4 linked regions of the Homo sapiens genome follow. The protein of the gene in region 4 interacts with the protein of the main gene of each other region in a pairwise test. Each region holds a gene or a part of one and is shown on either strand. Other genes may lie near its edges. The genes, in order: CAMK2G, SSX2B, SMURF2 and TNPO3.

What was found.
Region 1: the proteins of TNPO3 (region 4) and CAMK2G interact in binary tests that used the Homo sapiens proteins (3 or more experiments, as listed by UniProt).
Region 2: the proteins of TNPO3 (region 4) and SSX2B interact in a two-hybrid assay, tested with the Homo sapiens proteins (one large-scale study listed by BioGRID).
Region 3: the proteins of TNPO3 (region 4) and SMURF2 interact in a two-hybrid assay, tested with the Homo sapiens proteins (one large-scale study listed by BioGRID and IntAct).

The regions. Positions count from the first base shown.
Region 1 is NC_000010.11:73,866,157-73,874,235, forward strand, and holds part of CAMK2G (calcium/calmodulin-dependent protein kinase type II subunit gamma), read right to left. Parts: exon of another isoform or gene 7,047-8,079; coding exon of another isoform or gene 7,045-7,046; intron 6,928-7,044; coding exon 6,833-6,927; intron 1-6,832.
Region 2 is NC_000023.11:52,755,419-52,763,497, forward strand, and holds the end of SSX2B (protein SSX2), read left to right. Parts: intron 1-381; coding exon 382-431; intron 432-2,435; coding exon 2,436-2,571; intron 2,572-4,082; coding exon of another isoform or gene 4,083-4,228; intron 4,229-4,925; coding exon 4,926-5,026; 3' UTR 5,027-5,030; intron 5,031-5,495; 3' UTR 5,496-6,118; downstream 6,119-8,079.
Region 3 is NC_000017.11:64,541,782-64,544,544, reverse strand, and holds the end of SMURF2 (E3 ubiquitin-protein ligase SMURF2), read left to right. Parts: 3' UTR 1-2,263; downstream 2,264-2,763. UniProt on the Homo sapiens protein: E3 ubiquitin-protein ligase which accepts ubiquitin from an E2 ubiquitin-conjugating enzyme in the form of a thioester and then directly transfers the ubiquitin to targeted substrates.
Region 4 is NC_000007.14:129,043,203-129,051,281, reverse strand, and holds part of TNPO3 (transportin-3), read left to right. Parts: intron 1-8,079. UniProt on the Homo sapiens protein: Importin, which transports target proteins into the nucleus. Specifically mediates the nuclear import of splicing factor serine/arginine (SR) proteins, such as RBM4, SFRS1 and SFRS2, by recognizing phosphorylated SR domains.

The sequences.
Region 1 (8,079 bases), on a different chromosome or scaffold from region 4:
CTCTCCCGCCTTCTGCCCAAGTGCTTCAGGACTTGGTCCAAGGTGCCACGATTTCACAGGAAGGGCAGCAAGAAGTGACCAGATGCACCAGGGGAGGCAGAAAAGAGGAAGCAGATAGGGAGGTGATAGCTTGCAGCCAAGGGGTGCACCAAGCCTGCCCCTGAACCACCTCCCCCTCTGGCCTGAAGACAGAAGCCTACTCCAATGCCCTTTCCTTCCTCTGCCAGGTCAGGGGGCCAGGGAGGGCTGGCCACAGATTCTCCATGGCCCTCTCAGGGATGGGCCTGCTTGACTTAGTGACATTTTCCTAAAAAAAAAACACAAATGCCAGCACTAGCTTCAAATAAGATCCTGCTGCCACGTAAACATACAATCCTCTGTACGTGGGAAAGGATGCACATTCCTACTCTGACTGAGGACTCTCCCAAGTTCCAATCTCAAAGACATTCTTAACTTTGTAAAGGGTATTTTGCAGGTCTGTGCCTATGACCCTAAACATGGATGTGAGAAACTTCCTGCAACCCCACTGATTTCAGGGCTCCATGGGAGGCGGCCTCACTTGCTGCCCTCCTGAGTGCCTTTCATCTTCTTCCCAAGCAGCAGAGGCCGCCGTCTGGTCCCCTTGGCACTCTGAGGAGCAGAAACAAGGACATCGCAGGGATTTGATGTCATAATCCACCTTCCCCAGCTGCTTATGCACAGCCCTGGGCCTGGGACACTGACCAGTGGGAATCCCAAGCCACGATCCCACCGACCTCACCCTGACACTGTGATGCCACATCCCTTCCTCTTTGAATCTCACTCTAAAGATGCAAAGAGTCTCCAATTAAAAGCAAAGTCCATCCGACACACAAGAGCAGGACCATGGTTTCTAATGCCCTCACACATGTACACCTGGTGACTAGCTGGGGGCTGTGATACAGAGGGACGGGGCCTGAAATGGTCCCATGTGAACCCCCAAGGCTCTGTGCATGTACCCAGCATCCTCCCCTTATCTTCAACCCTCACTCAAGCAGTTTTAACTTGGTGACACAAAGACCTGAGCCCCACTTTGGCCTCTGGATCTCAAGGCAAGGGAAGCGAGAGGCTCCAAGAAATGCCCTATAGCGAAAAGGCCCTCAATCAGCTTTGACAGAGAAAATCCCCAAGGGGTCACTAGCAAGCCCCAAGAAGGCAAGGCTCTGCCTGGGGGCACTCTGGCTGCTCTCAAGGGCCAGAAAAGGGTCAGCCGTCTGTTCTCCATGCCCCCCGGCAGGGCTCCCGGTGCCTGCAGCCTTTGCCCACTGTTTTGGTGACATTTCCTTCATGGTAACCAGCCCCAAGTAAAACATCCCAGGAAGCAGCCCCTAAAAATAGCTCCTCCCAGGGCAGCAGCAAGCAGGGGGGAAGGGAAAGAAAGGGAGGAGAAAAGAGGGGAGCAGATGGGAAGCTGCGGCTGCTGCTGATAGGGCCCAGGAAGCGGAGATGGTGTTGGGGAGGAGTGGCTGGAAATCTCCCCACCGCACAGCCCAGAGAGGTGGGTACAGACGGGAATGGGGCCTCAGCCAGCAACGAGGAGGGATTTGCTCCACCAGGCTTGGAGCTTGGGGCCTAGATGGAGAGGTGTGAGGTGATATGCCAAGATTCATCACAGGAACAAAGTATCCAGAACCTGTGTTTTAAAGAAAGGCGCCAAGGAGTGGGTGGAGGCCACACGGCCTGAGGACGCTGGGTCTGAGCCCTGGCAAAGTCATGGGCACCTGCAGCACAAAACCAAAAAAGAAAAAAAAGACCCCAGACAAAGCTTTTGTGCTTTGATTTCCCCAGCGGTCCTGCGGCAGATCTGTCTGGCCATGGGTAGGTGACAAAGGGGCTCTGCAGAGAGGCATTCAAGAGGTGCAAAGTGCCCATCTCCTCCTGTCACCACCCTTTTGGCACCCATGGGATCAGGCCCTTGTTGGTCTGCCAAAGCTGTTCAGAGAGCAGCAAGCATACAGATGGGAGCAGGAATGGTCACACCCAGCCTCCCCTTCCCTATCTCCAGTCTCAGCAGAGAATGGGGTCAGCCACTCACCTCTAGGGTTTCAGCACAGCTTCGAACAAGGGTATGGTGACAAGGGACCAGAGGAAGCAGCAGGAAGAAGGCAGGGGCCTCCCTGACAGGACAGGGCAACCTTCCCACCTCCATCCCCACACCATGATGCAGCACCCCAAGTCACTCTAGGAAGACAGGTGGGAGGGGAGGGGGACAGGCCAGTGTTGTGTGTGCTAAGGCCCACAGCTCAACGTGACCGCGTGACAAAAGCCGCCTGGCAGAAGCCTTTGCACAGAGGGACCTGCAGTCGGCTTCCATCCCTTCAGGAGAGAAAGTAGAGGCGCTCCATCACTGATATGCAGGATGCCCATTTCTCTGTTTACAGAAATTGGCCTGTTTTATCCTCAGGAGGAAAGCATGGTTTCGCACACAGCCTCCTTAAATGCTTCCTCGAGGCCTGTGTTCCAGTGCTGTGTGGATTTCTCTTCCTTCTCCCACTCCCTGCATTACTGCTTCCCCCTCCCTTCTCTTTCCCTCACTTCACCCAGATCCTTAACAGGAAAGTCTCACTTGGAGATACCACAGGGGACACAAATGTCATGGGGGCTACTCAGGCCAACACTAAGGGGGCGGGGACTCTCAGCTGGCACCATCCAGGGGATCCCATTTCAGTCCCCAGGGCCAGCTGGACCCAGAAAGGGACAGCCTTTACCCTTCTGGTGGCCAACATGCCACAACCCGAGCCACCCAGCTTGCCGCAGCCTCAGACACAGACACCCCAATCCCGAGGCCCAGAACGAGGCCCCTAATCACAGAACAGCCCATGTGCACAGATGGCCACATAGTGGCAGACACACAATCTGGAGAAGGATGGGCCAAGGTGTGTCTGTTGAATTCCAGAGGGCATGGCAAGAGCAACTGTTGTTGCAGATTTTAGGTGGCATCTCTTAAAGAGTGGCTCATGCCTCACCTGCATGAAATTCACTGGAGCATGTGTTAAAAATGCAGATTCTGCAGCTCCACCCTAGACCTCCTAAAGCAGAATCTCTGTGGCTAAAGCCCAGAAGTCTGTATTTTTTAAACTAGTACTCAGGGTGATCCTTACGCACACTAAAATTGAAAATCACTACCTGGAAGAGATCCCAACAGTGGCCCTATAGTGCCATTTAGTGACAGGGAAGGAGGAATCATCAGCTAAATGTCTGCCTACATCTCCCACTCTGCCTTATGCCCCAAGCACAGGTCTTTATCCTCATCTGTCCTCTCTTCCAGCAGCCGTATCAGGTCTGCAGCTTGGCTCCCTGGATCAGAAAGGGAGGACCCAAGTCTGTAGCAGGGTACAAGGGCTCTGGCAACTTGACTCTGAGTTTCCTAGGAGCCAAAGCCAAAAGGCAACCATGATTGGTTACATAGTCCTCTTGACCCATTCATTTAATGTGTATGTGGCTGGCATACGTCAGGCACTTCGCTAGGGCCTGCCCATGCAGAAGTATAGAAACACATAAGGACCCTTCCCTCACCTCTCAGGTCCTCACAAAGAGGAAAGCTTTTGCTTACATTTAGCTTCAAAAGAAATTTCTTCACACGGAATGTACAGATTAAATAAATATGTTAAAGTATTATAACAGATTTCAAAACACTGTTTCCGGTAGCATCTCTTAGTAAGGCCAAGGGCATTACCCCAGTATCTATCTTGGTAAAAGCAACTGGAATCCAGATAAATGGTACATATACAGAAGTTTCTTGTGATGCTGATTGTTTTAGGGATAAATCCTAAACGACGTAGAAGAAAGGACCATTTGCCCTTCAACTGTAGTAATATGGGGGAAATGCTTTGGATATAAGCAAAGAGAGCAGGATATAAAATGTTATGCTCCACGAGGTGAAAATCTGTATGCATATGAATAAAGATAAGAAGGGAATATGAAGATTTAAAAATAAAAAAAGACATAAGGGCTCAGGCTCCTTGAGGGGGGTGCTCTTAAATCTTAAAATAACGACTTATCATTGCCATCACCTGGCCCACTAGCTCCTGCATCCAAGCCTATTTTAAATGCCTCCTTCGGCCTAGTGGAGCTAAGCTTGGAACCATGGGCTCCCTTAAGAGCCCAGCTCCACTCCTATCACGGTTCTGAAGCAAACGGAGTGACGTTATGTGACTTTCAGTGACTTTATGTAGACAGGCCCGCAGACAAAGACAGTGCTCAACGCATATCCGCATGAACTCCCCACCTTGCAACCTAGCCGCCAATGTGGGCCTCTGAGGCCACAGTGACAAGACACAACAGCCCAAAAGAAGGCTTCCTGTCTCGATTGGACCCCCCCAGAAGAACAGGTGATCCCTCTCCCTGACTCCTAGCCACCTCACCAGGGATGCCAAGGAGAAACAGCTCTATACCCTCTTTTTATCTTTTCAGTTTGTAGCCCAGAGAATCACAAACAAGAAAGACAGGAGGCAGGAAGACCCAGTGAACACAGCAAGCCCCTTCAGACCTTCACAGATGACCCTGGTGGGCCCACGACATTCCCAGACACAGAAATCCAACACCTGCGGAGACCTAGGCAGACAGCGATGAGTGAAACCCAGCTCCAGTGGCTGCACCTTTATAAAATATATAGTGTAAACTGAGAGTCTGCAGGGAAGCCATGGCCCTCACTCCCTAACCCCATGGGAACCAGCCCATGGCTACCCTGGCCCAGATCTCTCCAGGAGTTCACATCTCCCATGCCCACACCTATAGTCCAGCCCCACCTTGTTCCCTCCATCTCCAAGACAGCCCCTTTCCACTTTCCCACCTCCACACAGTACTGGCTGGCACTTACACATTCTGACCCCTCTGGCTGGCATCTGTGCCTATCATCTGTGCCTCTGTCCCAAAGTCAACCTGGCACATGAGGCCACACAACAGAGCCCAGTCTTGGCATATCCATCTTGGGAGAGGGGGAGTTGCTGTCTGAAGCATATACTTTTACACAAGAATCCTCTTCTTGAGGGGAAAAAAAAAAAAATCAACGAGAAATCAAGTCTCATCCAGTTTGGCCAGGGAAAGATATCCATTGGGAAAGATGGGACAAGGTTAAAAGGAGGTGAGGAAGGGAAAGGGAGGCTATCACACAGGTCATGGAAATTTACGCAGGTAGGGAAGGAGTAGGAAATGAAAGCCCCAGTCAGGCAGCTGCAGGAAGTCACCACATCACCTATCCTCACATCCCAGAATTCGGCTCCCAGCCATCTCTCCTTCTCTTACCCATGGGTCAGAGGACACTGGTGAGATGAAGAGAGCAAAGCATTGCATCATCAACTGGAGACACCAGATGCCAGCCCTGTTTCTGATGCACCAGGGCTCTGCTGTGTGGGCAAGAGAGGTATCCAGCCTCAAGCCATTGTTCCTGCCTGCACCTTCCATCCTTGGCCAGAGGATGTCTGCCAGAGAGCCCAGCCCCTGTTGTCCCCCCCACCCCCACTCCAGGGTATCTGACTGCCCACATATCTCTATGGCAACCATCCTCAGACTCAAGGTACCCAGAGAGAAAGAAAACAAACAAGTCCAACTTTATAGGCAATGTACACGAACAGCAAGAGATGGAGCTGGATGGGAGTCAGCAATTAGTGCCCTACTAGAGGGATGGAGAGAGAGTCCCCAGTCAGGGAGTGGACACGGCCCTGCTAAACAGGTCCCAGAACAACTGCCAACACGACAGAAGCCCGTGGAATTGTAGAGCTTCTCTAAGCATTTGGGACATCTATTATGTCTCTTATCCCAGAGAAACCCGTGTCATTATTGGCCAAAGCCCATGTCTTCCCCAGGGCATGTGTCCTGGCTCCTAATATATTTATGGCATCCTACTGCCCAGCCCTAATTCCTTTCTCTGAGTTTCACAACCTTTGTCCCCCAGCTGCACCCTGCAGCCCTCCGAGATCTGACCTCTGTACTCACCAGACCTGTTCCCAGAGCACTTCACACATTGCTGGGTCTACACCTATCAGATGAGGTGAGTTTGGCAAGTACCCAATAGGAAGTTCAGAGAGTGTAGGTTCAAGGTGTGAAAGACAGGCCCTGACCCTCCAAGCCTCAGGTACTTGGGAGGATCTCGCAAGTGAGGCCCCAAGGCCTTGGCCTTTATGCTCCTCAGACTCGGAGGCAGTGCAGTTCCTGCCCAAACCGGGCCTTTGGGATTTCTAGACCATGAGGCATCACCCTCCACCCAGGACAGACTACATCTGCTGCTGCACCACCAACTTTGTAATTTGATCAAAAAAGCAATCAAGTTCATCTGGCAGAATTTGTTCCTGAGAAGCCCTCGCCAGTAGCAGCCTCCCCTGATGTTTACAGATTCCCTTCCCTTGGGAGTCTGTTCTGCCGCCTGGTGGGCAGGGGAGGCTGGCTTTGTCAGAGCTGCTCACTTACTGCATTTCCATCCTAAGTCACCACTGGGGCACAGGGACCAGGAAAGGCCTGCAGTAGCCACCACTGCCCCAAAGGGAGAGGCTCCAAATGCCCCAAATTAAGAGCTCCCCATTCTGTACCACCCACTACCCCCATATCCTCCACCTCCCTGAAGACCGAACTCCCTTGAGCCTTTGGGGGCCACTGCAGCTACTTGCATCTCTTCCTTCATTCTTTTGTACCTGGGCGCTTCCAGTCCCCCATGCAACTCCTTTTCTGGCTTCAGCCTGACACAAAGTCCAACCAGTCTGAAATTCCAACTCCTCTCCAAGTGCTAAAACGCACAACCCCCAATTCCTGGGGCTTCCTCAAAAGAAACCATGGCCCCTGGAGGCACCCTCAGGAAGAGGTCAAGACAGGGAACACTCACCCCGGGCAGACAACTTCTTGGTATTGATGATTTTTGCTGCGTACTCCTGCGTGGAGGTTTTCTTCACACACCTGCGGACCACAGAGAAAGCACCCCTGGAGGGAGAAGGGGAAAAGAACTGGGACACGGAGCAGGGCAGAGTGACACAGACACACTTCAAGTCTGGGGACGATGATGCTCCCACCACCAGACCTCTAGTCACACTCACGTACATGCACACACACCGGCGCTGTGACCACCACCATCCAACATGAGGCAAAAGGACGCGGCCACCGCAGGACACTGAACAGATGTGGGTGGCGTGCCGCGCTCCCACCCCCTCATCCAGTCCCTGGGCAAGGCAACAGCCTCCACCTCAGGCTGCACATCAGGAGCGGGTGGGCGATGCTGAAAACACACACCTGCTGCATCTCAGACAGCCCTGCGGTCCCGGCCAAGAGAACCAGGGCAGAAGGGAGCAGAGAGACCCTGCCCTTCTCTCAGCAGGAACAGTTGAAGGTCGGGGAAGGAAAGATTAAAAAGAGGGTATCATCCCCTGAAAGAGAAATCTCCCTCAACCATGGGGCAAAGTGAGGCTCAAACCCCCCCACAGCCGGTTTCATCTCACTGCATCCCGGCTCAACTGACAGCAAGGGAAGAGAGGACACAGTCAGACATCAAGAACTCCCCTTCCCATGCTATTTTCCTTGACGTCCCCGTCAAACGGGAGCTCGCACTCTGAGCTCTGGAAACGTCTGGGGGGGCGGGCGGGGCGGGGGCTGCAGTGGCCGGGCTCGGCGCCGCGGGTGGGGGTGGGGGGCCGGGGCTGCTGCAGCGGCCAGCTCAGTGCGGAGGGGAGGGGGATGCTGAGGCTGCGGCGCGGCTCCCGGGACCACTGCAGGGGTGGGGGGAGGGGACGGGGGTGCCGCAGCACTGCCCAGCCGCGGGGCTGGGAGCCTGGAGCGGCACCCGCGGGGGGCGGGGCCGGGCGCCAAACAGCCCCCCCACGCCCGGGCTCCGCAGCAGAGCTAGGGCTGCAGGGCTGGGGAGGGTCCTGAGTGCGAGGCGCGTGGGACCTGGGTTCAGGGTGCGGAGTGAGCAACCGGGCAGCGTTGGGAGGTGGTCGGGAGGGGGGCGCCTGAAGGGTGCGGAGGGGCGGGGCTGGAGGGCACCCGGGAGCGGTCCGGGGTCTGCGGTGTCCGCGGCGGCGCGTGGGGAGCAGCGGCCCCGCCAGTTGCTGCAGGGCGCGGAGGGGGATGCGGGGCAGT
Region 2 (8,079 bases), on a different chromosome or scaffold from region 4:
ATTCACATACCATAAGATTCACCCATTTGAAGTGTACAATGATTTTCAGTTGTTGCACATCTTGAGTGGATACAGTTCAGATTCCTAACCAATCAATTTAATTATTTGGGAAAAAGTAAAAGATATGTAATGGAATAAGATGAGACTGTGATGGGGTGTAGTCCCCATGTGATAAACCATGAGATGGAAAATTCTGAATTGATGCCACAGATAAATGCACCAACCATGACTAAACATAATTCAGAAGCAAATCTGAAATAACTCCTCAACAATGAGTGGACTCATAACCCTCTGCTGCAGAATACCCTGATGCGACAGAAGTCTCTCTAGAGTTTGGAAACCTTTACCAACAAAGAAAAATTCTGATGTATTCTCTTTCAGTTGAACGTCCTCAGATGACTTTCGGCAGGCTCCAGGGAATCTCCCCGAAGGTGAGTGTCTCTCAGATCTAAAGGACCAGAGAACCTTTGTCCCTCCACGGATGCGAACACTGGTAAGAGTGGGAGAATATCAAAAATGCCCTCACTGCCTTCTTCTCCCCATGTCTATCACAACACCTGATGTCGCACCGACGGCTTGATAGTACCAACAGTTGCGATTGTTAATACTTCTTTTGTTTTCATAGTGATGCCAGATACTATTTCAAGCAGTTCACATGGATTAATTTATTTAATCCTTAAGAAGACATTGTTTCTATTATCTCCAAATAATAATGAGTCACACACTTCAGTTTTCATCCATATGAAAGCCATGTGACTTGACACAAATCTTCTAAGTTCTCTGAGCTCCAGATTCCTGGTCCATGAAATGGAAGTAAAGAATTATAGTTCATGTTTTAGATCATAGTTATCAGCAACATAATAATAAAATGAGGCTATCGTGGTACAGAGATGTTAAAGAATTTTCCTGGGGCGCAGTGGCAGTGGTAGTCTAATCCAGAGCTCCAAGCCATTTAAAGCTCATTCACATTTGCATTTGTCTATGAAGTTCAGATGTTGCTCACTAGGGCTTCACCCCATAGGGCCTGCTGGTGCTTCCAATGAGACACCCACTCTCTCAACAGGAAGGACCATCTGGTCTCTGCTGTGTTGCTGGGGCCACTTGCATGGCTTAGGAATCACTTTGATTGTTGGCCCCTCCCTACTGTGAGCTCCTTGAGTGCCTTGTCTGCACCTGGGGCATCTGGGAAGGCCCAGTCCCAGCCCAGGGGATCCCTCGGAGGCCCCTGAATGAGTGATCCCACAAGTGCAGATTCAACTCTGGTTTGGAGGGTAAAGGGATCTGGGAGTTGGGTTGCCAGTGTGGAGACTGAATTCAAAGAAGGATTGTGAAAGGTATTAATTGTTATTATTACGACATTTAAACAGTGTTTACAAGCTCAGAGAGGACTTTACTGTAGGCTATTTGACATGTATGGTTCACTATTTCATAAGGGAGGAAGCTGAATGAAAAGTAGCTTAAGAGCCGGGCGCGGTGGCTCACGACTGTAATCCCAGCACTTTGGGAGGCTGAGGCGGGCAGATCACGAGGTCAAGAGATCGAGACCATCCTGCCCAACATGGTGAAACCGTGTCTCTACTAAAAATACAAAACTTAGCGGGGCGTGGTAGTGCCTGCCTGTAGTCCCAGATACTCTGGAGGCTAAGGAAGGAGAATCGCTTAAACGCGGGAGTCGGATGTTGCCTTGAGCCGATATCATGCCACGGCACCCCAGTCTGGCGACACAGTGAGACTCCGTCTCAAAAAAAAAAAAAAAAAAAAAAAAAAAAAGAAAGAAAGAAAGAAAAAAAAAAGTAGCTTAAGATTGTTGGTCAGTGACACATCCCAATGCAACCAGAATTGGTATGGGTACCACCTCACTGAATTCCACATTGAATGTCGGTGCCCCAGTAGGGTAGTATGTCATATCTGGTACTGCTTTGTTTGCTGCCTAGATTAATTTCGGCAAACCATTTCTTTCCCTCTCCCTTCCCTGTATTCATCTCCCCACACCATCTTTCCCAGCAGTGTTTTGTCGCCTCCCTATGTTTTTACATTTACTCTCCCAGCAGCTGTCTAGAAGCTTATATGGGATCCCTTGTATTTTACAGAACCTCTTCCCTTTGTAGACCTTGTGAATTCTTAGAATGCTACTCTTCTCCAAATCATCTGTATATCACACTCTCAATTACATGGAGATTTTTGCTGTTTGCAAGAATGTCAGTCCTAAAAGAGTGGGAAGATAAGCATTCTATCCCTGGAAACCATATTCACTTAGGCCATTCCTTTCCCTTCTAACCTCCCCTCCCAGGTTTCTCCTAATTTAGGCCTGTGTAACTCTCCCAGTGTTGTTGAGAACATTGAATAAGCTAATGCATGTGAAGACCCTTTGTAAGCTCAAAAGCACTATAGATATGTCACTGATACTATTTATCTGTGATCTTCACATTATAAAGATCATGCCCAAGAAGCCAGCAGAGGAAGGAAATGATTCGGAGGAAGTGCCAGAAGCATCTGGCCCACAAAATGATGGGAAAGAGCTGTGCCCCCCGGGAAAACCAACTACCTCTGAGAAGATTCACGAGAGATCTGGTAAGAGGAAGCAATTCAGGAACAATCCCTCTGGCTTCCCTGGCGATGTTCAGGTATATGGACTGGGTGTGTGGCATGGATCCCAGATAACCCTGGGTCCAGACTGGGCTGAGGAGCTCGCCCAGCTCCAGATGAGATGTTAGACATGACTTCCAGAGATAGACTTGATTTGTCACCCATAGAAAAAACCATGTGACTTGGGGCAAGTCTTTCAGATTTTCTCAGCTCCAGATTCCTAGTCCGTAAGATGGAAATAAGGAATCATAGTTCATAAATTGTTTGGAGACATTAAATTTAATCTAGAAGGCCTGATGACATGAAAGGTGCTCAAGCAATTCTATCTGTGATTACCTGGGATCATTACCTGATTAAGACTCAGCTCAATGCCATGCCTGTTACCCAATACAGGTGTACTTCAGAGATACTGCAGGTTCAGTTCCAGACCACTGCAATAAAGTGAGTCACACACGTTGTTTTTTGGTTTGGCAGCGCATAAAAACATTATGTTTATACTATAGTGTAGTCTACTAAGTGTGCGATAGCGTTGTGTCTAAAAATGTATATACCTTAATTTAAAAATAATTCTTTGTTAAAAATGCTAACAATCTTCTGAGCCTTCAGTGAGTCACACTCTTTTTGCTGGTGGAGGGTCTTGCCTCGGTGTTGATGGCTGCTGGCTGATCAAGGTGGTGGTTGCTGAAGGGTGGAGTGGCTGTGGCAGTTTCTTAAAAGAACACAACAGTGAAATTTGCCACATCGATTAGCTCTCCGTTTCATGAAGGATTTCTCTGTAGTATGTGATGCTATTGGATAGCATTTTACCCACAGTAGAACTTCTTTCAAAGTTGAAATCAATCCTCTCTAGCTATGAAAGTCCTAGAAGGCATCTCCTTCCAATAGAAGGCTATTTTATCTACATTGAAAATCTGTTGTTTCATGTAGCCACCTTCAACAGTGATCTTAGCTAGATCTTCTGGATAACTTGCTGCAGCTTCTCCATCAGGGTTTGCTGCTTCACCTTGCACTTTTATGTTATGGAAACGGCTTCATTCCTTAAACCTCATGAACCAACCTCTGCTAGCTTCACATGTTTCTCCTGCAGCTTCTTCACCTCTCTCAGCATTCATGGACTTGAAGAGAGTTCTGGTCTTGCTCTGAATTAGACTTTGGCTTAAGGGAATGTTGTGACTGGTTTCGTCTTCTATCCTGACCACTCAGACTTCCTCTATTTGAGCAGTAAGGCAGTTTTGCTTTCTTATTCGTGTGTTCACTGGAGTATTAGTATTATTATTTCCTTCAAGAACTTTTCCTTTGCATTCACAGCTTGGCTGTTTGGCGCAATAGGCCTAGCTTTCAGCCTGTCTTGGCTTTCAGCATGCTTCCTCACTAAGCTTAGCCATTTCTAGCTTGTGATTTAGAGTGAGAGACATGCGACTCTTCCTTTCATTTGAACACTTAGCGGCCATTGTAAGGTTGTTAATAATCCTCATTTCAGTATTGCTGTGTCTCAGGAAATAGGGAGGCCCAAGAAAAGGAAGAGAGACGCGGAACAGCTCATCGGTGGAGCAGTCAGAACACACACAACATTGGTCGATTCAGTTTGTCAACTTCTATGGGTGCAGTTCATGGTACCCCCAAAACAATTACACACAACAGGGTGATTATAGTCAATAATAACTTAATTGTACATTAAAAAAAAAACTAAAAGTGTAAATGGATTGTTTGTAACACAAGGATAAATGCTTGAGGATGGATACCCTATTTTCCATGATGTGATTATTACCCATTGCATGCCTGTATCAAAGCATCTCATGTACCCCATAAGAATATACACCTGCTGCGTACCCACAAAATAAAGAACAAAAATTATTTTAAAACACTAAAAAACAATAAAATCAATTGCAGTAATAATATCAAAGCTCACCGATCACAGATCACTATAGCAGATATAATAATAATGGAAAAGTGTAAAATTGGTGAGAATTAAAAAAAAAAATTGCAGCATCTGCGAAGCAGTATGAACATGAGGTGCAACAAAACAAGGTACGCCTGTGTGGCCTTAACAAATACGTGCTGGATGAAAGGAGGTATGGGGGAATGTTCCCGTAAGTGAAGAGGTTGGGAATCTAAGCCTGAGAAGGGAAGGAGCCAGAAGCTAAAACTTTAATTGGCATTTGGCCTATGTTGGTGTGGATCTAAGGTCTCAGCCTCTCTAAGCCAGAGAATGTGAAAAACTGGATGAAGAAGGCCCATGGGCACTTGGGAGGAAGCAGGCATCTCCTTTTTTTGAGTAAACAGAGCCTAACACTCTCCAACCTTCCCAACCCTCACTTTCCAACTATTCTCCATCACAGGACCCAAAAGGGGGGAACATGCCTGGACCCACAGACTGCGTGAGAGAAAACAGCTGGTGATTTATGAAGAGATCAGCGACCCTGAGGAAGATGACGAGTAACTCCGTAAGAGAACCTTCCACTCATCCCCCACATCCCTGCAGACGTGCTATTCTGTTATGATACTGGTATCCCATCTGTCACTTGCTCCCCAAATCATTCCCTTCTTACAATTTTCTACTGTACAGCATTGAGGCTGAACGATGAGAGATTTCCCATGCTCTTTCTACTCCCTGCCCTGTATATATCCGGGGATCCTCCCTACCCAGGATGCTGTGGGGTCCCAAACCCCAAGTAAGCCCTGATATGCGGGCCACACCTTTCTCTAGCCTAGGAATTGATAACCCAGGCGAGGAAGTCACTGTGGCATGAACAGATGGTTCACTTCGAGGAACCGTGGAAGGCGTGTGCAGGTCCTGAGATAGGGCAGAATCGGAGTGTGCAGGGTCTGCAGGTCAGGAGGAGTTGAGATTGCGTTGCCACGTGGTGGGAACTCACTGCCACTTATTTCCTTCTCTCTTCTTGCCTCAGCCTCAGGGATACGACACATGCCCATGATGAGAAGCAGAACGTGGTGACCTTTCACGAACATGGGCATGGCTGCGGACCCCTCGTCATCAGGTGCATAGCAAGTGAAAGCAAGTGTTCACAACAGTGAAAAGTTGAGCGTCATTTTTCTTAGTGTGCCAAGAGTTCGATGTTAGCGTTTACGTTGTATTTTCTTACACTGTGTCATTCTGTTAGATACTAACATTTTCATTGATGAGCAAGACATACTTAATGCATATTTTGGTTTGTGTATCCATGCACCTACCTTAGAAAACAAGTATTGTCGGTTACCTCTGCATGGAACAGCATTACCCTCCTCTCTCCCCAGATGTGACTACTGAGGGCAGTTCTGAGTGTTTAATTTCAGATTTTTTCCTCTGCATTTACACACACACGCACACAAACCACACCACACACACACACACACACACACACACACACACACACACACACCAAGTACCAGTATAAGCATCTGCCATCTGCTTTTCCCATTGCCATGCGTCCTGGTCAAGCTCCCCTCACTCTGTTTCCTGGTCAGCATGTACTCCCCTCATCCGATTCCCCTGTAGCAGTCACTGACAGTTAATAAACCTTTGCAAACGTTCCCCAGTTGTTTGCTCGTGCCATTATTGTGCACACAGCTCTGTGCACGTGTGTGCATATTTCTTTAGGAAAGATTCTTAGAAGTGGAATTGCTGTGTCAAAGGAGTCATTTATTCAACAAAACACTAATGAGTGCGTCCTCGTGCTGAGCGCTGTTCTAGGTGCTGGAGCGACGTCAGGGAACAAGGCAGACAGGAGTTCCTGACCCCCGTTCTAGAGGAGGATGTTTCCAGTTGTTGGGTTTTGTTTGTTTGTTTCTTCTAGAGATGGTGGTCTTGCTCTGTCCAGGCTAGAGTGCAGTGGCATGATCATAGCTCAGTGCAGCCTTGAACTCCTGGGCTCAAGCAATCCTCCGTCCTCAGCCTCCAGAGAAGCTGTGACTACAGGCGTGCACCATCATGATCCACTAAGTTTTTTAAGGTTTTGTCAAGAAAGTCTCTCTATGTTACCCAGGCTGGACTTAAACTCCTGGGCCAAAGCAATCCTCCCACCTTGGTCTCCTAAAGTGTTGGGATTACAGGCGTGAGCCGCAGCACCTGTCCTCCAGTTTTTATTTTGATACAGACTATACACTTCAGTCCTGGAGCAGGATTCTGTAGCAGGTGGTTGGGCATCTTGGCCTTTGCTCTCTGAATGATTTTCGGTTTCAAGGTCTGGGACGGTCCATTTGGGTGGATGTGGGAGGAGACACAGATGAAATCGTCATCTGGGGAACGTGGAAGAATAAGGCAGATGCGTGCAATGTAGACCCTGTGATGGACAGGGAATAGAAGAGTCCACTTAGTCTCCATGCAGGGGAGCAATTGGTGGGAAAGTCTCCTGGACAGAAGCATGAGAGCGCCCATCAAGGGTCTCACCAACCAAAGGCCTGGGGGCTGGGGTGGGGATGATGATTTGGGAATGGGACAGTTCTTTCTCACAGGTACCATTGCACGGTACAGAGGTGAAACAGTTGTGGGGAAGGGAAGGGCAGAGGGGAGTCTATTTTAGAACAAACCATTGCGTGTCAATGGAGACATCAAAGCTCCATTCACACACAATGGACTTGAAACACCAGCCCCAGGTGGAGGCAGGATTGGAGCTGTTTTGCCCGTTCGTGGCCCATCACCTTGGCCTCCTGGTTCTCCCCAGCCTTCGAAGGAGGACACTATCATCATTATGCCAATATAATAGATGAGAGACGGAGTCCCAGAGAGATGGTAGGTGTCTTGTCAGAGGTCCTACAGCTGGCAGGTGCAGGAGGGGCTGAGTTTGGAGCTCACTGACTTCAGAAACTTTAAGGAGGACAGGTGTGTGTGGTGGAGGGAGGGGGAATTGAACAAGCCCCGGGCTCTGTCCCCAATCAAAATGTAAAGGCTGTGGGTTCATTTACCGAAGACAAGGAGCCCTAGGAGAGAGAGAGTGCAGGGAGGGAGAGGCAGTTGTGGTCACAGCAGGGACAGTGGGAGACAGAGATACGAAGGGTGGGCAGAAGAGGGGCAGGCAAAGAAGCAGGGGAGACAAAGCCACATGTGGGCTGTCACAGCCACCAGAGGGAGAGGGTGCCTGGAAGGAGATTGTGGAGCTCCAGGAGCAACAGAGGTTCCCCAGATCTGTGAGCATGCCCTGCCTGGCAGTGCAGGAAGAGATGGCTGCCACCCAGGTCAGTGTGGACGTACCTCTACCTGTGTCTCAGAGGGAACAAATTCTATTTTATCCCAATATAGTTCTGTATTACACAAATGTAACATTCGGCTACTAGATATTGAGTGCCATGTCCTCCATGCAAATAGAGGAGAGGATACCCTAAAAGAGATACCGAAGCATTTGATTTTTCTTTCTCCCTGGGACAATGGGATCCATAAGTTGGGTCCCCCAGCCCACAAGACAGGTGCAACGTAGTGTGGCAGGAAGATTGTGAGTTATGACAGGGAACATTTTTCCTTAGGTTACATGGGTATATAAAGCTCCGGACTATCTGTCT
Region 3 (2,763 bases), on a different chromosome or scaffold from region 4:
GAAGCAACGAAAACTCTGGGGTGAGGGATTGAAAAAATCTGAAATCACAGTTGGATTTTTAAATTCAACCATCAAAAATATGTACTATCAGTTTTTTTTTACATTGATGTGAAATAAGCAAATTTTCATGATAATTAAGCTGCAAAATTTAAAGTTATCAAGTAAATAGGTCCTCTGTGTTCTGTTTCATGTGATGGAGTGGGTTTCAGTCTGTGTTCTTGGAGCCAAAGGGTTCCTCAGGGGTGCCTCAGGAGTAATGGTTTAAGAGAAGAGGGGCAATGAGAGGGAGCGAGGGGGAAGGCCTAGTTGGTATTTGAGCAGGGGCCTTAGGCTCCATATCCCCACCCCCTTTACCCAGAACAGCCCATTTTTCTTATGTATATTGGAATTTCAAGTAAGCTTTCATGGGGTGCAGTGGGGCGGGGAGGAATGGATGGGATAAAAAAAGTGGAGATTTTGCTGCTTTAAAAAAGTTGAGAACTACTTGTGTAGTTTTTAAGTATTTTAATGTATTTCATTTGGCCAAATTCAACTGCCACAAGCAAGCTAGTCATAGTTGTAACTGTGCAGTGGTAATATGCTTATGCCTACCTTTTTCCTCTCAAACAATTTGTTTTTTTTACATTGCATTCTGAGTACTGAAGAGCATCTTGAAATGTATGGAAGTGGTTTCTATGCTATTTGATAATCAGTAATGTTCAGCTGTCATGATAGTACTTTACTGGTTGCAGACCCATCTCTCTTTTATATTAAAGCACTAGTGCAGTTTATAATTGTGCCTACTTTTAAAATCTTTCAGTAAAAAAGTACATAATGAATACAGAAATCATAACTGACAGGGATACAGTAATAATGAAATGCTACTATCACTTATTTTAATATACAATATAAAGCAGGCAAATACCATTGCTTTTTGAGTGCCTTTTTAACTTTATACTAATGACTTAATAGAGCTTTAAAAGAAAGAAATTGGCTGGGCATGGTGGCTCACACCTGTAATCCCAGCACTTTGGGAGGCCGAGGTGGGCGGATCACCTGAGGTCAGGAGTTCGAGACCAGCCTGGCCAACGTGGTGAAACCCTGTCTCTACTAAAAATACAAAATTTAGCCGGGCATGGTGGCGCACTCCTGTAATCCAACTACTTGGGAGGCTGAGGCAGGAGAATTGCTTGAATCTGGGAGGCAGAGATTGCAGTGAGCCGAGATCGCACCACTGCACTCCAGCCTGGGCGACAAGAGTGAGACTCCGTCCCCGCCCAAAAAAAAAAAAAAAAGAAATTACTCTCCATAACAGTCTATGTTATCACCAACATATATAAAAACATGATTTAGATTTCCATTTCAAAGTTACATTACCCGATTACTTCCAAATAGGTGCTAAGCAAAAACCCCCAATGTATTATTGAACCATGGACTTGCACCTCATGTTTAATGTGAATATTTATTTCCATGTCCCTCTTAACTGGTTTTTTCTTGTCTTCCCTCTAGCTGTATTGTTATTTCAGATATGTGATATCTGTTTTCATACTCTTGCCTTTCCATCATGAATGCTTAGTTATGAACAGAGATTCCTTTGTAGAGCTCATAGGCAGTACAGAGAGGTAAGTCTTGCCTCAGAGGGCCTTGTATCTTGGTGTAGTTTTTAAATAGTGCATAGTGTATAGTGTATAGTGTACATTTTGTTTTGCACATAGTTTGTTGCCCCGAATGGGTTTTTTACCAAGCCTTTTTTTCTTTCATGTATTTACAGTCCGGAGCACAAGATTCTCTTCTTTCAAATACAATGTAATTCGCTTTACTTTACAACACTAAATCTGGGCTTTGAATTTCCAGTGCATTGGACTGATTGGATTGTTGGGAGTTAGAGGCTGTTCCAACCATCCTTAGTTTGGGAGAGTGGCTCCTTCTGCTTGTTTTCTAAGCGTACAGTCAACGGGTGCCATTTGTGGTATTTAACATGTTAGGATGATTGTTCCAAATGCTGAGTTGTTTTATTTCTAGATGTAATTAGTTCACTTTATGTAATATTCTTCTCTCAGACTGACTTTAAAAACAAAGTTTTATCATTTTCATTGTATTTGTATTTATTACAGAGTGTTTTAGCTTTGATATTCTTTGTATTTTCATTCATTTGTTACATGAGCTTTATCAGTAACATCTGTATAAATGGTTTTTAAAAATTAACTATGTATGTGCCCATGCCGAAGTCGAGCAATAAAATCAATGCTGTTTGCACTGTCACAGCATCAACGTTTTTAAAGAATATTGAGTTTGTAATGAATCGTTTTGAAAACATTTATGGTTGGCTCTATGGAGGGTGACAACATGAGTCACAAAATGAAAAGTTCAAGAACACATGCCATCCTGAGTTGATGCCTCTGTCATGTTGCAGAGCTCAGCTTTCTGTCTCCTCGCAGAGCAGGGAAGGTGCCCGTTTTCTCCGGCCGTGGTGACTGCTCAGTTGGTAGTACCTGTTGGGGGTACCGCATAGGTGGATTTCTGAGGGGGGTCAGGGGCTAGTGGGGAAGAGCATCTTGGTCCTGTCACCAGTCTGCAACCATCTTTGCTATAATACATCTCCGCTCTGTAGGGCAGGCCTATGACAGGGGCTCATATTTGCCAGCCCTACCTTGGTATGTCGAGCAGTAAAATTCTCAAAATGAAAAGGAGAAATCAATTGTATTTTTTCTAGAAGCTGTGGATTTTAAGGTTTATAATTCACTACTGTATTAATGATAGTGGACTAAAGTCCAGCTAACTCTA
Region 4 (8,079 bases):
AAAATATCAAATAATGTCACCTAGTTTTTTTTGAAATCTTTATGTAGTTTTACTAATATTTAAGTTTTATTTTTAAAACAAAATTTTGTGGAACCTTTTTTTTCCTGTTGGTAATCAAATACCTCTTTTTTTTTTTAACATTTTGTTTTCTGGGTATCCACAATAAGTCACCCTCAAATCTCAGTACTGTAAATATCCTCATTGTTCAGACTGGTGATTTGTTTTCTTTTTTGGCTAAAGGAAATATGTATCCCAAGAGCCCTCCATTTCCCTGCTCCAGTCTGGCCTGGTTCGCTAGGTCTGTTGGATAATTACTGTCATGGGATTCCATAAACACTGTCCTAGGGAATTCCCTTTGCCTCTTTGTTGTGCTGGATCCACTGATTCTTGGATTCCATGATGTTTTCTTGGGTTACTCTTCCATTTAATGGATCATCGAGAAGGGAACCTTCATCCTTTCTCTCATTGCTTTTCTGTTGGTCTGTTTTTCTTGGGCTGCTTTTACCTTGAGTTCTCTAGTCAGCCTGGGGGTTATAAGCTAGACTGCCAGTGTTCTAAAGCCAGTTCAGGGAATGAAGCCAGGGGATGGATCTCACAACTAAGTATGTAGGTTTTAATTTAATCTCTTGTTTTTCAGCATGATACTCCTGTCTTTAGCTGAGTCTGTTGTCTAAGAGTCCAGAGACCACCTACTTCAATCTTTCCACAGTAAACCTTGAGTCTTCTGTTATGGTGGGAGAGTAGTAGCCTGGTTGCTCAGAGTCAGAGAGGAAATTTAGGAGTCTACTGCTTCTTACACAGATTTTGACCCTTTTATTTATTTAAACTTTTTTCTTTTTTTGTTTTAAGGCTGCATTACTAGCCGATTCCCCCCCCACCCTTTTTTTTTTTTTTTTTTTTGAGACAGAGTCTCGCTGTCTCCCAGGCTGGAGTGCAGTGGCGCCATCTCAGCTCACTGCAAGCTCCGCCTCCCGGGTTCACGCCATTCTCCTGCCTCAGCCTCCAGAGTAGCTGGGACTACAGGTGCTTGCCACCATGCCCAGCTAATTTTTTGTATTTTTTAGTAGAGACAAGGTTTCACCATGTTAGCCAGGATGGTCTCGGTCTCCTGACCTTGTGATCTGCCCACCTTGGCCTCCCAAAGTGCTGGGATTACAGGCATGAGTGACTGCGCCCAGCCCACCCCACCTCACCCTTTTTAAAAAAAGAAAAAAAAGAAAAGAAAAGTTGGGGTCTCGCTATATTGCCCAGGTTGGACCCGAACTCTTGGTCTCAGGCAATCCTCTCTCCTCAGTCTCCTGAGTAGCTGAAATTACAGGTGCACACCACCACATCCAGCTCCACTCCTTTATTTTTTGTTCCGCCTGTGCATCTGCCTTCAGATGTACCTGTGCTTCCAATTCCCCAGTCTTCCTGGGTTTTGCAACATGAATAGTTTGTCCCTTGCCTTCCCTATTCTCGTCTCATCCTCCCTCCCCACCCCCAGGCAAATATCAGCCTTTTCGGATCTGCTAAGACAGTTAACACTGTCCTTTAGCTTTCCAGTTTCCACAGTTCTATTGATATCTGTCACCTGTTTCCATTTTCTTTGTCTTTATGTGTTTTTGCCTTTTTTAAAAAAGATCTTTACTCTGATTTTTATTGGATTTTTGGAAGGACCTGAAAGCAGACAGCTGTGTTCAATCAGTTAGTTTAGTCATTTTAAACAGAAGTCCCTGCATTAGTTCTTGAATTTTATCAAAACCTCAGTTCATTGACTGTTCCTTACTTCTTCTTTATTAGGTCTTCTTGTTTTTACTTCTCTCCTTACCAAATGTGGATTCCAAGATCTATCATTCTAGTCATTTTATAAATACACCATCACCTTTCCCCTCCAATTTGGTCAGACTTCAGCATGGTTGTATGCAGCTGCTTCTCCTCTTGTCAGATCTAGGTGCTTTGCATCTCTCAATCTTCTGAAATTTCTGGGACCTTGATCTTTTGGTTTATCCTATGTCTTGTCTGCATCTTTAGACTCCTTTACTGAGTCTTTCCCATCAGCATCCAAATAGCTGAAATATTTCTCATAGTACACAAATATTTTGGGGTAGAGTGGATGCCGCCTTTGCCCAACTTTACTTTCTTCTCTGCTTTTACCCTTTCCCAACCCTTTCTTCAAATGCAGAAACTAACTCATCTTTTGAAAGCCCAACCTAAATTCTGCTTTCTCCTTCAAGGCTTACCTGCTTCTCTTCAGCCAAAAGTGATTTCAGCCCCCAATGAATGCCTAGAGAACTTTACTTCATTGTGTTTGCCTTTTTATAAACCTTTTTGAAAATAAGTGTTTTGCCTCCCCTACTAGACTGGGATTCTTGTCACATTTGTTTATGTAGTCCAATACCCATAGTTGAAGAAATAAACCATGGTTATTAAGATAAACAATCAAGACACTTCACACACAGGTTCTTAAAAATGTTGATTGTCAGAAGTGCATACATGCAGATACTCAGTTGGATAACTCACATTTTTCTTTATCTGCGAGTTTTATTTATTTTTGCTGTCACTTTTCACCATATACATGGTTAAAAATAAACAATATTCAGCACCTTTAATGCTCTTCAGTCTTTCCAGTCTTTTTTTTTCTTTCTTTTTTTTTTTTAAATCCTTTATGAGATGTATATGTTGCCCTCATTTCATACTTGCAAATATTCAGGTACAGAAAGGGAGAGGAACTTTTTGACTCAATAAGGCTCTCTTTGTTTATTTATTTTTTGAGACAGAGTCTCACTCTGTTGCCCAGGCCGGAGTGCAGTGGCACCATCTTGGCTCACTGCAACCTCCGCCTCCTGGGTTCAAGCAATTCTCTTGCCTCAGCCTCCCAAGTAGCTGGGACTACAGGCACATGCCACCATGCCCGGCTAATTTTTGTATTTTTAGTAGAGATTGGGGTTTTGCCATGTTGGCCAGGTTTGTCTCAAACTCCTGGCCTTAAGTGATCTGGCCGCCTTGGCCTCCCAAAGTGCTGGGATTAGAGGTGTGAGCCACTGCACCTGGTCTATTTATTTAGTTTTTTGAGACAGGGTCTCACTCTGTTACCCAGGCTGTGGAGCGCAGAGGTGTGATTACTGCTCACTGCAGCCTTGCTCACCTGAGCCTGGGTTCAGGTGATCTTCCCACCTCAGCCTCTTGGACAGCTGGGACTACAGGCATGCACCACCATACCTGGCTAATGTTTTGTATTTTTTGTAGAGTCAGGGTCTTGCCATGTTGCCCAGGCTGGTCTCAAGCCCCTGGGCTCAAGCACTTCTCTCACCTCAGACTCCCAAAGTGCTAGGATTACAGACATGAGTCACTGTGCCTGGCCAAGGCTCTCTTTAAGTGGTCACTAAATGGCATTTGTAACCAAAAGTAATGTGTGTGGTGGTTTTTTTCTTTCCGGAAGATTTTGTCTACTGGAACAAAAGCGTGTTTTAACTGTAGTAATAACTATAGTGTTTTAACATCCATTTGAAATTGGTAAGGCATAGAATTTGTGTGGTTTGCTAAAAAACTACTTTCAAGAATATGTATTTGTGAAACTATTATCCTTATTCTTCTCTACCACCCCACCTAACTAATCCGAGAGTAATTGAGTATAGTTCGAATGACCTGGTGACAGTAGACGTGGTATAGAGGTATAATTTGAATATGCTTTAGCCTGTACTGTGAGTTAGCATCTTTTCTCTTTCTCTAATATTTGTATAAAACAGCCATTTTCTGAAGAATCTGTATTCATTGCTCTAAACTTCCACCAAAATTTTTGGAGATGTACAGCCATGGTTGTTTTATGTGATAGATAGATATCACTGATAACTTCAAAGTGTTCTGAAAGAGAGTATTTTGAGGCAGATCTTAAAGGAATCTTAGTAGCCTGTCCTGTATATTTAGTAGTTTCATTTGTCCACCCCTACTAACCAAAATTAGTAGAAGTTGTAGAGAGCTATTGAAGGAAAGACCATCTCTTCATAGGGCCAATTACTTAAGCGACTCAGTTATAAGTTTTTAATTTAAGTTGTAAGTAGGAGATAACTTTTACAGAGACAATCTTTGGGTTAGATATTACCTCAAAAGTTTTATAGTTCAGTATGGAAACTGAATAGGCATGCTTCAGCATGGGTGTATGCAGCTTTTTGATGGAAAGCATCAAAAGCACAAAGCAGATGAAGTAAAGTCATGCTTTGATAGACTAAGTTGGCATTGTCATGTTTGGTTTATCACATGTCCATAGGAATTTTCTTCTTAGATATCATATCAGAAAGGTCTTGGGTTGATATGGTTTGGCTATGTCCCCACCCACATCTCACCTTGTAATAATACCCCCCGATTTGTGGCAAGGTGGGGCCAGGTAGAGGTAATTGAATCATGATGGGGGGTTCCCTCATACTGTTCTTGTGGTAGTGAATAAGTCTCACAAGTTCTGATGGTTTTATAAATGTGAGTTCCCCTCCACAAGCTCTCTCTTGCCTGCCGCCATGTAAGACGTCGCTTTGCTCTTCCTTCGTCTTCCGCCATAATTGTGAAGCCTCCCCAGCTATGTGAAACTGAGTCAGTTAAACCCCTTTCCTTTATAAATTACCCAGGCTTGGGTATGTCTTTATTAGCAGTGTGAGAACACATTAATACATGGGTCATGGAATATCAGCTTCAAACTTCTTTGCTAGTACTTTTCCTTTTTGGAATTTATTGATTCTTTAGCCTGGTTATAAAACCTAGGGTTTTTGGCTTTTCTCTGGTCATTACTGATTTATCTTGAAAGTTTAGGCATTTTTTGTGTGTGCTTATGCTTGCACCTTCCAGTCAAAACATGCTTTTGAAAGGAAAGCCTTCTAGAAAATAGAAAATATTCCTATACAACTTCAGTAGATGAGTTCAGTCTAGGAATACTCTGTGCCTTGCACTGATAGAAACTGGGAGTATGTAAATAATGAAAACCAAAGATCTTTCTCCCAGAGAGTGTACCAATGTAGCTGTGTCATCCAGTGTAGTAGCCACCAGTCTAGTGTGACTATTTAAACTTAAAATTAAGTAAAAGTTAAAATCAGTTTCTTTTTTTTTTTTTTTTTTTTTTGAGACGGAGTCTCACTCTGTCACTCAGGCTGGAGTGCAGTGGTGCAATCTTGGCTCACTGCAACCTCCACCTCCCGGGTTCAAGCAATTCTGCCTCAGGCTCCCGAGTAACTGGGATTACAGGTGCATGCCACCATGCCTGGCTAATTTTTTGTATTGTTAGTGGAGATGGGGTTTCACTGTGTTAGCCAGAATGGTCTCAATCTCCTGATCTCGTGATCCACCCACCTCAGCCTCCCAGAGTGCTGGGATTACAGGCATGAGCCACTGCGCCCGGCCTAAAATCAGTTTCTTATTTGCACTTACCCACATTCCAAGTACTGTACGGTACAAATATAGAACATTTCATGTCTTTGAAGTATTGGAGTCTATGTTTGTGATTTTGTGACAGTATTTCTGTTGCCATGGTAGTCTGTTATGTGGTGGCATTTCTCCATATTTTGATTAGTTTCTTGTCTTGCCAGGCCTTGGGCCAAAGTTGATAGTTTGATTTAGGATGTAAAATTATCAGGGTACTACTATATTTTCTAATTACAATAGTTTTTCCAAAGTTTTTCAGATATTTCTTCAGCATTCTTTTACAGTGATTGATTGCACTGATGTTTATGGAGGAAATGGAAAGTAGGTTTTATAGATTTTTTTTTTTTTGTGGCAAAACATTCAAAACATAAATTTAGCATTTTAACGTTTTTTTTTTTTCTGAGACAGGGTCTTGTTCTGTTGCCCAGGTTGGAGTGCAGTGGTGCGATCATAGCTCACTGCAGCCTTAAACTCCCAGGCTCAAGCTATCTTGCCTCCTCAGCCTCCCAAGTAGCTGGGATTACAGGCATGAGCTACCGTGCCCAGTCATTTTAACCATTTTTAAGTGTGCAGTTCAGTGGTATTACATACATTGACATTGTTGTGCAACCATCACCATCATCCATCTTCAAAACTTTTTCATCTTGTAAAACTAAATCTATGCCCACTAAACAAAATAGGTGCCCATTTGCTCCCCGCCCCAATCCCTGGCAACCACCATTCTACTTTCTGTCTCTATGAATGTGACTATTCTTGGTACCTCATGTAAGTGGAATCATACAGTATTTAGCCTTTTTGTGATGGGCTATTCTCACTTAGCATAATATCTTCAGGGTTCATCCATGTGCGTAGCATTGTCAGAAATTCCTTCCTTTTTAAGGCTGAATAATATCCCGTTGTATGTATATATACCACGTTTGGCTTATCCATTTATCCATCAATGGACACTTGCTTGCACCTTTGTGAATAATGCTGCTATGAACATGGGTGTATAAATACTTGTGGGAGTACCTGCTTTCAATTCTTTAGATATACAGTATACCTAGAATTAGAATTGCTGTATCATATGGTAATTCTATATTTATTTGTTTACTTATTTGGGGGAACTGCCATACTGTTTCCCAGATTTTTAAGCTCTGTTAAACTTAAAAACAAATTTATTTCTTAGGAAGTTGATATTACTCAGACTACCTGTCCTGTATTTCCCTCACTTGTACCATGGTGCTGAAATGTTACCAGAGAGTATTTTTACAGCTGTATAGGTGAAGCCTCTAAGATAAACCTTATTTCTCTTTACTGGAAGTTAACAGTATTGCTACAAGGGATAGTTTTGTAGTGTTTGTTATGTACATACTCTTAAAAGTACTAATTTAATTTTCTTCTTCTGGTAGAGTATCCAAAATGAAATTAGAAAACAAGTATTTTTCCTTTTGGTGGGTTTTCTGTTAACAGAGTTTGCATAATGGTTTTTACTTATTTTTTTCTCAAGCCCACAGCACAATTCTTTTTTCTATTTTGTGTTCATTGCTTCCTAGTTGTATTTTCTGTCTCAGTCATAGTGTAATATTTTAACAGTTATCTTCAAAGCAAGAGAATATATTTGGAACTAGACATGAAAACATAGATGTTTTGAGCAAGGCTCCATCTCAAAAACAAAAAAACTAAAAAAGGCCAGGCGCAGTGGCTCATGCCTGTAATCCCAGCATTTTGGGAGGCCAAGGCAGGCAGATCACTTGAGGTCGGGGTTCAAGAAAATATACATGCTTTTATATAAATAAGCATTCAGAGATTTAATTACCACTTTAATGCGTTATTACAATACTTTAAGTTAGACATATTACATTTATGTAAGTTTGAAAAATTTGAGTCTTAAGCACTGTTAACATATGCTTTGTATGTACAATAGAATTCTCATCTGGTTTATATGGGTTATAAAACTGAGCAGGTAGGCAGAAATAGAGACCAGTGTTGAAAGAAGATAAATTTTCTGTATTTTGGCTTTCAGGAAGCCTTTGCATGGGCTAACCATTTGTTTCAAATGAAATGGTTTCAAGCTTGGCATTTTCTATTTTTAAAGCAAGACTGCCTAGTATAAATAAGGCCCACAGTGAAAAGATTATCGAGTAATGCTTGACTTGGTCATTCCCAACTGAAGTTGGCTTTATGGATCTAAATTTATTTGTCTTTTTCAGGGCCATTCTTGAGATTAATACCAACATTCATAGGTAATTGAGGATTATTATTTTGGATAGGGATTCTTGTCATGAAAAAATTGGGGCAAGATATCTTAGTACCATCTTATGTGTGACCAACAACTATGTAGTTCAGCCAAAATTCATTTGTCAGAGGTCATTATGATATAGGATTATTTAAAAATGCTTGTCTCAGAACTTCTGGGATTTCAAAGAATCCGGGAAGACCCCACTGTGCAGTGCTGTCATTGGCCTTATTGATTCCTTTCTTTTATTTTGATTCAATTTCAGTTTATTTTAGAGATAGGGTTTCACTCTGTCACGCAGTCTGGAGTGCAGTGGCAGGATCACAGCTCACTGTAACTAGGGCTTCAGTGATCTTCCCACCTCAGTCCCCTACCCCCACCCCCTGAAGCTGAGACCAAAGGTGCGCACCATCACATCCTGCTAATTTTTTTTTTTTTCCTGTAAAGACTGGGTCTTGCTATGTTGCCCAGGTTGG